Linked DNA regions of Homo sapiens: region 2 is linked to region 1. Evidence: fine-mapped expression QTL. Tissue or cell type: tibial nerve. Region 1 holds a variant in brackets; the other region holds the start of a gene. All regions are shown on one strand. Distances are between the middles of the regions.

Evidence for each region. PIP is the estimated chance that this variant, and not a neighbour inherited with it, causes the effect. A credible set is the group of variants that fine-mapping cannot tell apart.
Region 2: LINC01435 starts here. The variant in region 1 is the best candidate, but not a certain one, in a credible set for the expression of LINC01435 in tibial nerve (GTEx, PIP 0.79).

Annotation. Positions count from the first base shown.
Region 1 is chr10:107,901,189-107,906,583 of GRCh38, reverse strand. The region is part of intron 4 of LINC01435 (long intergenic non-protein coding RNA 1435); the gene reads left to right. Among named protein-coding and RNA genes, the nearest start is that of LINC01435, 170 kb to the left of the region's middle. The variant C/T (reference allele first, on the strand shown) is at 2,302.
Region 2 is chr10:108,066,943-108,072,337 of GRCh38, reverse strand. It overlaps LINC01435 (long intergenic non-protein coding RNA 1435), which reads left to right and starts at 3,045. Exons shown (of 5, transcript NR_125760.1): 1 at 3,045-3,156.

The sequences.
Region 1 (5,395 bases):
AACTCGTGGGCCATCTGATGTAGGGCTCTCCTGTTTGGAAAGTAAAAGTTCTTGTTGACCTCTTTAATTCTCTTGGCACTTTTGATTACAATCATCAGAGGATTTGTCACTCTGGTTTGGAAATGCTGTCTCCAGTCCCCCTGGGAAAGTCGGCCAAAGACTTTCCCTGGCTTTGGCCGAGTGGATGGATTTTTGAACTAGGAAGTTCTGGGCTTTCTCATAGGCTGCTAAACCAGCTATTCAGTGTGGACTTCACTTGCCTGTATTTGCATTACCTAAATTTAGACTCCAGAATTAGTATTCTGTTGGAGGGGCCAGGAGAATAAACAGGTACATTCATGTTTTAATAACTCCCTAGATGATTCTTACAAATACTGAAGATTGAAAACCATTCCCTACAGGATTTTATTGTTGCACATGTAGGATGTCCTGCCAGCTCTTTAGCAAGAAGAGACAATGCCTTTTCCTGGAAAGTGATCTTTCTATTGTTAAAATAAGCACCTTGATTAGTAATTCTTGTAGTTGGAATGAGTTACACGGAACCGTCATACCTAGATATCCGCATGAATAATGTATGCGTTGTGAGGATAAAGGGGTACAGTCTTTTGGCTGTAGCGTAATGGTTAGTAGCAATGACTCTGGAAACAGATGCCTTAGATATGAAATCTTTCTCCAACTTTTATTAGCCTAGTGACTTCATGAAGATAACTTTGTGACTCTGCCATCATATGTAAAAAAATACCCTTCTTACAAGTTTGTTAGGAGACATATAGGTTGATAGATATCTAGCAGTTAAAATAGTGATTGGCACATAATAAACACTCCAATGTTAGATGTTGATTGTTATTACTTTGTTATTGTTATTTTATTAACAATCATGATAATCACAATATCTAATACCGACTTTATATATATAATATATATATTCTATCACTTGTGATATTACTATCTTTTTATAATGTGCTCCCTCCCTTTTCTGTTTTTTACCCTTTTCCTCTTTGAGGGCTGGAGCTATTTCTTACTGTATTTGTTATTGTGCTGTTTTGTTTTGTTGTTCACATCTCCCTTACAACATTTGTAACTATTTGCCCAGAGTAAATACTAAATTTATGCTGGTTTTTCTTTAACTTTTCTTGGTGCAGAAAAGCATAAGTTAATAAGACTTATGACCTTGTACAAGAATATGAGAGAATATTATATAGTCATTAAATGTAGAATCTATATGTAATGGCTTGTAAAATATGTGTAGCAAAACAAAGTAAAATCATAAATTTGAAAAACATTAAGACTTTAAGACAAAAATTTTTGTCTGAGTTCTCTTATGCCTCTCAAATATCTAATTGGGCATCTGGTATATAAAAGGATCTCAATTTTGTTGAATACATTTTTGTTTTTGTAAAATAAAATGAAGCTGTAAAAATCTAGAAAGATGTGGCTAAAATGTTACCACATTATGACTGAGGGTTTCAATTATCCTTAAAAATTTTCTGTATTTTCTGATTATTTTATGAACATAAACTACTTGTATGATTTTCTTAAATAATTGCAGGCTGAAAAAGGGATGATGAACTTAGCCTCATTATACTTAATTTTAGGTGACTAAATTTGACAAAATGTATCTGATTGCTACGGTTGGTAGCTGGTTTTGATGACAAAGGTGGCAAGAAGATCACTCTTCTCTTCTGAATGTATAATAGCAGATATTTTCACTCCTTTCTTGAGTTTTCTTTTTCTTTTAATTACAGAAGAGATATATTTGAAGGTATTTGCACCAACGAGACCATATACAGTTTTTAGACATTCTGGTGACCTGTGCTTCCAACAAAGAGAATATATATGAATGAGTAGATACATACATAGATAGCTGGTTAGATAGATATAAATATATTTCAATTTAAATCTGACATTAGCTTGAGGTTGATATTCATCTGTCTATGCATAGATATTAATATATGTACACACACATGCACTTAGCCATAGGTATTATACATAGTAAGTCAAGCACTTATACTCTTCCTGTAACTCCTCACTCATGGAGGTGAGGTATTAAATGGTCTTCTGCTTAAATGGAAAAATCTTAAGGCAAAGGAAATTGGAGGAGAAGGTGAGAGACAGATACTGAGATACCGAGAGATGAAGAAAGAGAAAAGACAAAGTCAGAAACAGATAGTAAGTCAGAAACATGGAGATTCAGAGATACAAAAAGAATCACAGAAAAGAAAGGCAATGACCATGGAGAACTTGTAATCAATATTTTTAAAAAGTACCAAAGTGGAACATGAGCTTATAGTCACAATTTTT[C/T]CTAATATACTAATACACTTTTCTACATTTGGTGGAAGTTCTGAATTTTTGATTCACAGATGCTACACTGCGCTATTCAATTACCCACGAAATGTGCACCAGATTGCAGGGCACAGGCCACCCACAGTTTTTTTGCAAAGGTGTATTCATGTGGCTCCTGAATTTTCAAACTTTTTTTCTTTTTTTCTTTTTTTCTTGTTTGGCTCAGAATGCATGTTACCTTTGAAACAGTATTTGCTGTAGTGGTTAAATTTCTAGGTCAAACCACAGAATGCCAGGGTTCTCGTTAGGGCTTATGCTGTGATTTTTGCCATCAGGTGGGTTAGATACTTTACATGCTTATCCAAGCATCAAACTAGTATTGGCAATTTCATTTCTGGTAAAAAAAAAAAAAAAAAAAAAAAAAAAAACCTGTAGTTTAGAACTCATGTTGAATAGTTGTGGTAGCCAAAACCTTGAATCTTTGTCCTTTTTTGACTCTCCAGAGCCACTGAACAAAAGGTAATTGGTATGTACCCAAGCCACATTGTACTTCTCTTCTTTATAGAAAAAGTGATTTTGTCATTTTTCCCTCTTTGAAAAAAAATAGCACAGGTAAACCATTGTGTATTCTTGCTGTCTGTAAAAGCTACATTTTGTTTAGCTGGGGCTGCTTAAAAGACTTACTCAAACAGCAATGTGTTTTACAAGAAACTGTTAACAATTGTTAATTTGGGCCATAAGACTGATGGTCTAGTACAGGAGTGGGCAAACTATGTCCTGCGGGGCAAATTTGGTTTGCCGCTTGTTTTTTTAATAAAGTTTTATTGGAACACAGCCACATTCATTTGTTTTTTTACGTATTGTCTATCGATGTTTCTGGGCTGTAACAGCAGTGTTGAGTAGCTATAATAGTGACCGTATGTTCCACAAAGCCTAGAATCTTTGCGATCTGGCCCTTTACAGGAGAAGTTTGTTCACCTCTCTCCTAGATCATGAAGAAATTTTTAACTGTTCCTTTTATATTTGCCTGTGCTATTTTGAAATATTTTTGCTGTGTGTGTGCAATAAAACTATTACAACATTTTAGATGACTGTTCGGCTGTCTACTCAGATTGTGCTCCCATGCATCCTCAGAAATCAGCAAATGTCTTATGAAACAACCTGAAAATACAGATATCCTAGAATGGAGGTGAAGAGAGCATTTAGAAGGACAATCTAGGTACGAAATTTTGGTTGGCAGCATTAGCAAGTGAAATATTAACATGCATTGACATAGATTAAAGAAGATTTGATATAGATTGTAGGATATATTTTAGTGATCTTGGGGAATCTAGAAAGGAAGGTGGGGAAAAGAACACTCAAGGAGGAAAATGCTCATGTTTCCAGCAATGGCAGTTGAGTGGATAATGGCATTATGCATTATGATAGGGGAAAGTCAGGGATGCGGGATGTGGAGTTGCCAGTAAGGAAGAGGAAATGCTGTTCGACTCTGCTTTTGTTTGTACTTTGCAAGGTAGATGGAGCCTCCAGTACCGCTGAGGGTAATTTTGTGTGTGCATGTGTTTGTGTGTCCACATATGCACTTACTTTCAGCTTGGCTACACTTGCTCATGAGAATATAGTCTATGATTTTCTTTGATGTCTTAGTCAATTTGGGCTGCTATAACAAAGTACCATAGACAGAGTGCCTTATAAATGACAGACATTGATTTTTTAGAGTTCTGGAGGCTGGGAAGTCTGAGATCACAGTGCTGGCAGATTTGGCGTTTGATGAGGGTTCCCTTGCTGGTTCACAGACATCAACTTTCTGTAGCCTTACATGGCAGAAGGGGTGAAGGAGTCCTCCAGGGTCTCCTTTATAAAGGCACTTAATGCCATTCATGAGGGCTCTACCTTCGTGATCTAATCAACTGCCAATGCGCCACCCGCCCCCCCCCCCCCCCAATACAATCACGTTGGGAGTTAGAATTTCAATATGTGAAATTGAGGGGAACAAAAGCATTCAGTCTATGGCATCTGGCTTCTGGCCTTACTGCAGGATTTTAAATCAATGATGACCATACAGAAGCCCCTGATATGAATAACTCTTGTTGCCTGACTGAGTCCTGTGTGCTGAATAACCTTGGGGTTCCCTACAGTGTCTGCCCTGGATGTCAAATAACAAATCCCGTGCTTAACCCTACAAGTCATTCTGAGCAGAAGTACAGGAGTAAGGACTTGTGCTATGAACTTTCCCTGAGGAGGAGAACGTGTTGATCAGATACATGGGCCAGCATATTCTTGAGCAAAGCCATTCTCAAGGTTGGTGAGGTCCACAATAAACTCATGATCTTCTCATGGTAGCACAGAGATGAGCTGCTACTCCTGAACCCTTGTATCATCTGGCTATCTCTCTGAAGCTTCCTGAATGAGGTGTACATTATTAATGCTGATGGTCAAGAAAAGTATGTGAATCAATGGCTGCTATAAACTTTATATGAGTTAAGTCAAGAGAATTGATGAATAATTGAATTACTGGATAAAATTGCTAAGCCAGTTCTATCCACCAAGTCTGTTACTACCAAAATCATTTCTGATGCATACCCACCCTTTCTTGAAATATCTTAATATGGCTCAGTTGTCATAAAAGACTATGTGTTTGTTCCATAACAAGGTTTTCTTTTTCACGTTAAAAAATTGAGGGAATCAAAGTTTTCTGTCCAGTCCATTAAATTATCAGTCCTGTATACCAACAAATTCCTGAGGACTTTTAAAAAAAGGTTTGTTTGTTCAATTAGGAATGAATAAATAAATTAGTAATGAAGGATGCTCCTCCATTAATTTTCTTCTCTTGCATCCCGCTTTCTTCAAATTTATCCTGCATGCAAGTATCTCAGGAAATAGGATTTGAGTTGGGGCTTGATGTGAGAGACTGAGAAGATGTGGGAAGTGGTATAGAAAGAGCAATTAGAATGTGTGACTGACAGTTGACCAATGGTTCACAGCAATGACGTTTAATGCTCCATTGCTAATGGAAATTGTGAATGTGGCTAATGGAAAAACCTAATTAAGAAAGCAGCTTAACAGACTCTGTAGAAAGCAAAAGTTTTGATTGAATTGAAGTGTTGCTATT
Region 2 (5,395 bases), 170 kb before region 1:
AACTCGGCGTAACTTCGATCTCTTCACCAGTAACATTATGAGATGATGAAGTGATTTCTCTCTGTTCTGAACTCACATGAAACATAGTTTTCTTTATATTTCTTGCCATAGACAGAGTCTGCACTTTGTCTTATTTTTTCTCTGTGAGTGCAATGTTTCTTGAGGGTAAGATGGTCTTCTGCCATTGTATTCTCAGTGGTGCTTGTCCCAAAATAGGTGCTTGATTAAGGTCCTGGGAAAGAACAGGGGAAAAGAAGAAGATAAAGATAATATATTTATTGATTGATTCATTTCTTCACTGAAAGATTTTATATGTTTTTAGATTCATATAAATTTATATTCACACATGTGAAAAGGCCATGTCATGTAACAGCTACATATCCTTGTGATTTTCAGCTGGTAACTTAATATGATTTGGGCTTCATCCTTTCCATAGTAAGCAAGTTGGTTTTATGACTCAACTTCTGACTCTGTTCTTCAGTGTGTGGCTTCCAGTAAGGGACTTTTATAGGATGAATCCAGGAAACATTTAGGTGGTACAATCCACCTACTGTTCAAAAGTGATGGAAAGGCGAGTTTGGAGGTGATAGGCCTTTTCTAAATGGCTCCGTGAGCATTTTTATTTCACTAACAACATAGAGACTATGACAGGCAGAATATTGTCCCCACCACAAAAATATTCATGTCTTAATCTTAGAACTTATAAATATGTTGCTTTACATGACAAAAAAGGCTTTGCAGATGTAATTAAATTAAAGATTTTGAGATAGGGAGATTATTGCAGATTAGCCAGTGGGCCCATTGTAATCACAGGGGTCCTTATAAGGTGTATGGGTCAGAGTTAGCAAAGGAGATGTGACAATATAAGTGGAGGTCAGAGTGTGAGATTGAGAACCAGGGAATGTGGGCAGCCTCTCAAAGCTAGAAAGGCCAAGGAACCAATTCTACCCTAGAAACTCCAGACAGAACACAACCCTGCTCACACCTTCAATTTATACTGTAAGACCTGTTTTGACTTTCTCCCTTCCAGAACTGATCCCAAATTATTGGTCTTCATTTCTTTCTATTAGACTGTATATTTCTTGAGGACAGTATTCTTATGTGGTTAGTCATTACATCCTCTGTAACATCCAGGACAATACTAAACAAAATGAGAGGATTCAATAAATAGCAAAAGAACATATATCAGTAAATCCCCCCAACCCCTGCCCAGGGAATTGATAGAGTCATGTACAGTCATGGATGTTTTCAAGTAGATGGAAGGTCGGAGAAACAGGTTGGCCAATGGAGAGGACACTACCGAGTATGTGTTTGAAGTGGCTAGCAATAAATCCTTAGTAATCAGTTAAGGCATACAACAATAACAGCTTGGCATGAACCCTAAATATACAATGTGGATATTCCTTAGAAAATATATCCTTTAGTAAACTCATTCTGAAGGAGCTGGTTAGTTAGGATGCTGGTTCCTAATAAAAAAGAAGAGAAACTGTTTCTAGCAAGAGGTAGTAAAAGCTGAAGTAACATTTACTGAGCACTTTATGAGACATTTAAGTACAATTACTAGAAAATACTAATTGGAGAGTGAAATTACCTCTTTAAAAAGTTAAATGATTTGAGAGGGGATATTCATTTGAAAAATCATTTGGGAGTTCTAATTCAATCTATAGAATTAACAAAACCTACGTATTCTTTTTGTACTCCATATTTCTAGAAATGTTGGAGGAGCTTCAATGAGTGAGAAACTGTGTTACCTGCAAAAGATAAAAGCAAAACAGAATGCATTGATGAAGATAATTCAATCAGCATGCACAGCATAGAATTGTTATAGATTGGGTAACTTCATCAAGACTTCTCCATGACTGAAGGTGGTAGATTCTGAAGGTAGGAAAAAATGCAGGGACTTTGACATCTTTAAGCCTTTGAGGTCTATTCTGTTCCAGTTATCACTATGAACTTTGTTTTATTGGCTCTCTAGCCTCCCTTTCTCCTGCTTCTCTCATAAGCCCACTCAATTTAACCTTCTGATATATTGGACCTATGTCTCCCATCCCATCTTGGAGTTTTCCTCTGGGCATTTTATCCCTTCAATACCCCACCCTCACAAGAAGGAAGGAAGGAGGGAAAGAAGGAAGGAAGGAAGGAAGGAAGGAAGGAAGGAAGGGCAGGAGAGGAGAGAAGAGGGGAGGGGAGGCGTTATCTTTCAATAAGTTGGTATTATTATATTTTAATAATACCTAATGTCTTTAGTTTTATACTAAAACCAGTGGACCAAGCATCAGTAGACCAAGTAGGACTCAAGAATGAGAATATCTTATAGGTGAATACATGCTTTAGAAAATCAAGCATATGAAAGCCATATTTTACCATAGTAATGTATTAGATGACAAAACTCAACTTTCAAAACAATCTGTGTGTTGAGATTAAACAAAGAAGCCCTTTAAGTGGCAGTCTTTTCACTATACATGTTTGTTTATAGGTCATTCACTAGAAAAATACATGAAGGAGATGGAAAGGATTTGGAACTAAAGTAAAATGGTACTGTGTACTGATATCTAGCCAAAAGAATGATGTCATATTGCTGAAATGTCTAATAAACTTTGGAAGAAGCAAATGCATTTTATTATTAAAAATTAGCATCAGGACACTCATAAGTGGAAAATGAAAATATGCAAACAAATAAATGTTCTTGATGCCAAAAGTATAATAAGACTATATTTTGTAATAAAACTTAAAAAAGTCCAAGATAACATTTATCCTCATGCATAGCTTGACTTAGTAGTCAAATGATATCATCCATGAAATTTATCTCCAGTCATCTTCTCCCATTATGTGTGCTGGCCTCATTCTCAGATAGGTTCTCCTACTCTATGCAGGATTAAATCCAGGAAAAAAGAAGAGAAATAGCAATTAAAAAAAATCTTTCTCTTTTCTGATCAATCTCTCCTCTGATTGGTTCAAACTGGCCCCACTGTGATTTCATAACTACCCTCACCACAATGTTTATAGTCAAGGGAATGAAATGTGTTTCTTGGCTTGGGCTTAAGTCTTATGCCCATGTCTGGAACTGGAGTGGGATCGGCCACATTGAAAGAACACAGCCTGAGGGCAGGGAAGCTATTGAGCCCCAGAGAGAAGTTAAAGTACTTTTCATGAAAGGTAGGAGAAATCTATATAGGGTGATTTAAGAAAACTATATTTCCAGTGTACTAATTGTGTACATGAATATCCTGTGTAGTTGTGATGCTTAGACTAATATTTTGGATAAAGTCTGGCAGTACCTTTCACTGCCAATAGCAATGAGGCCTTACTATAAGAAGTAGGCAGAGCACAGCAACCAGAAGACTCTCCCATGTAAGCTTTGCTTCCACTTGCCACTAGGAATGCAAGCAACTTCAGCAGATAAACCTGCATGAGTGCCCACACACCATACTCAAATACCACCTCAGAACTAACTACAGCTCCAGAACAGTGTTAATGAGCAATACTAATCTAGTCAGGGGATGGAAAGAGAAAGAATAAAAATGTTATTTCTTCGATTTTACAAACCAGAAAAAAAAGCACATGTTCATCATATGTAGATCTTCCAAGCTATCCAGGATTTACCAAAAAATCAAACAAACAAACAAAAAACAAAACCCATTAAATCCAATACAAAATCCTGAGAAAAATATAATTCTCTATTTTAGATTTAAATAAAATGAATGTGGTTTCCAGTTTCCACTTCAACAATATTTTACAGTGCTAAGTTCTGTAGGTTGATCCTCATACACATACAAATTTCTTTAGAGGTGATTCTTTGGTTTTCAGAGTGGAGAGGTAGCCCCTTGGGATCCAGGTAGAAGGACAAGCAGAGACGGGTGTGTCTCTGCCTTTATTCTGTTCCCCATTTTCCATTTTTTCCTGCTGTTTGTGGAGGTTTTGGTTGCCATCTCAGGGCCTTCATTCTGTCTTGCCTCAGCTTCCCATCACTTTAAGCCCAAAGTGGAACTGGTCTACTTTGGAGGAGGAGACTTTGAGAGTCAAATATCTCAGCCAGGTTCACACTGGGTACACCATAAACTAGATCTAGAGATTTCCATCAATACAAGATACTACAATGCAACACAAAAAGTATTCCTGCCATTACTACTTTTGGAAACAGTGTACACATTTGCAGTTTCTTTATCTTTGTTCATTCTTATCTTTTTCCATCATCCCTAAACAACATACTATTAGCATCTCCTCCCATTTATCCATATTGTCCCTCCCTATATGGAAAATTCTGTCTTTTTCTGTCCTTTCTTTAAAATCCTGACTATAGTATAGTTTGAAGTCAGGTAGTGTGATGCCTCCAGCTTTGTTCTTTTGGCTTAGGATTGACTTGGCAATGCGAGCTCTTTTTTGGTTCCATATGAACTTTAAAGTAGTTTCTTCCAATTCTGTGAAGAAAGTCATTGGTAGCTTGATGGGGATGGCATTGAATCTGTAAATTACCTTGAGCAGTATGGTCATTTTCACGATATTGATTCTTCCTACCCATGAGCATGGAATGTTCTTCCATTTGTTTGTATCCTCTTTTATTTCCTTGAGCAGTGGTTTGTAGTTCTCCTTGAAGAGGTCCTTCACATCCCTTGTAAGTTGGATTCCTAGGTATTTTATTCTCTTTGAAGCAATTGTGAATGGGATTTCACTCATGATTTGGCTCTCTGTTTGTCTGTTGTTGGTATATAAGAATGCTTGTGATTTTTGTACATTGATTTTGTATCCTGAGACTTTGCTGAAGTTGCTTATCAGCTTAAGGAGATTTTGGGCTGAGACAATGGGGTTTTCTAGATATACAATCATGTCTTCTAGGCTACACTAACCAAAACAGCATGGTACTGGTACCAAAACAGAGATATAGATCAATAAAACAGAACAGAGCCCTCAGAAATAACGCCGCATATCTACGACTATCTGATCTTTGACAAACCTGAGAAAAACAAGCAATGGGGAAAGTATTCCCTATTTAATAAATGGTGCTGGGAAAACTGGCTAGCCATATGTAGAAAGCTGAAACTGGATCCCTTCCTTACACCTTATACAAAAATCAATTCAAGATGGATTAAAGACTCAAACGTTAGACCTAAGACCATAAAATCCCTAGAAGAAAACCTAGGCATTACCATTCAGGACATAGGCATGGGCAAGGACTTCATGTCTAAAACACCAAAAGCAATGGCAACAAAAGCCAAAATTGACAAATGGGATCTAATTAAACTCAAGAGCTTCTGCACAGCAAAAGAAACTACCATCAGAGTGAACAGGCAACCTACAGAATGGGAGAAAATTTTCGCAACCTACTCATCTGACAAAGGGCTGGTATCTAGAATCTACAATGAACTCAAACAAATTTACAAGAAAAAAACAAACAACC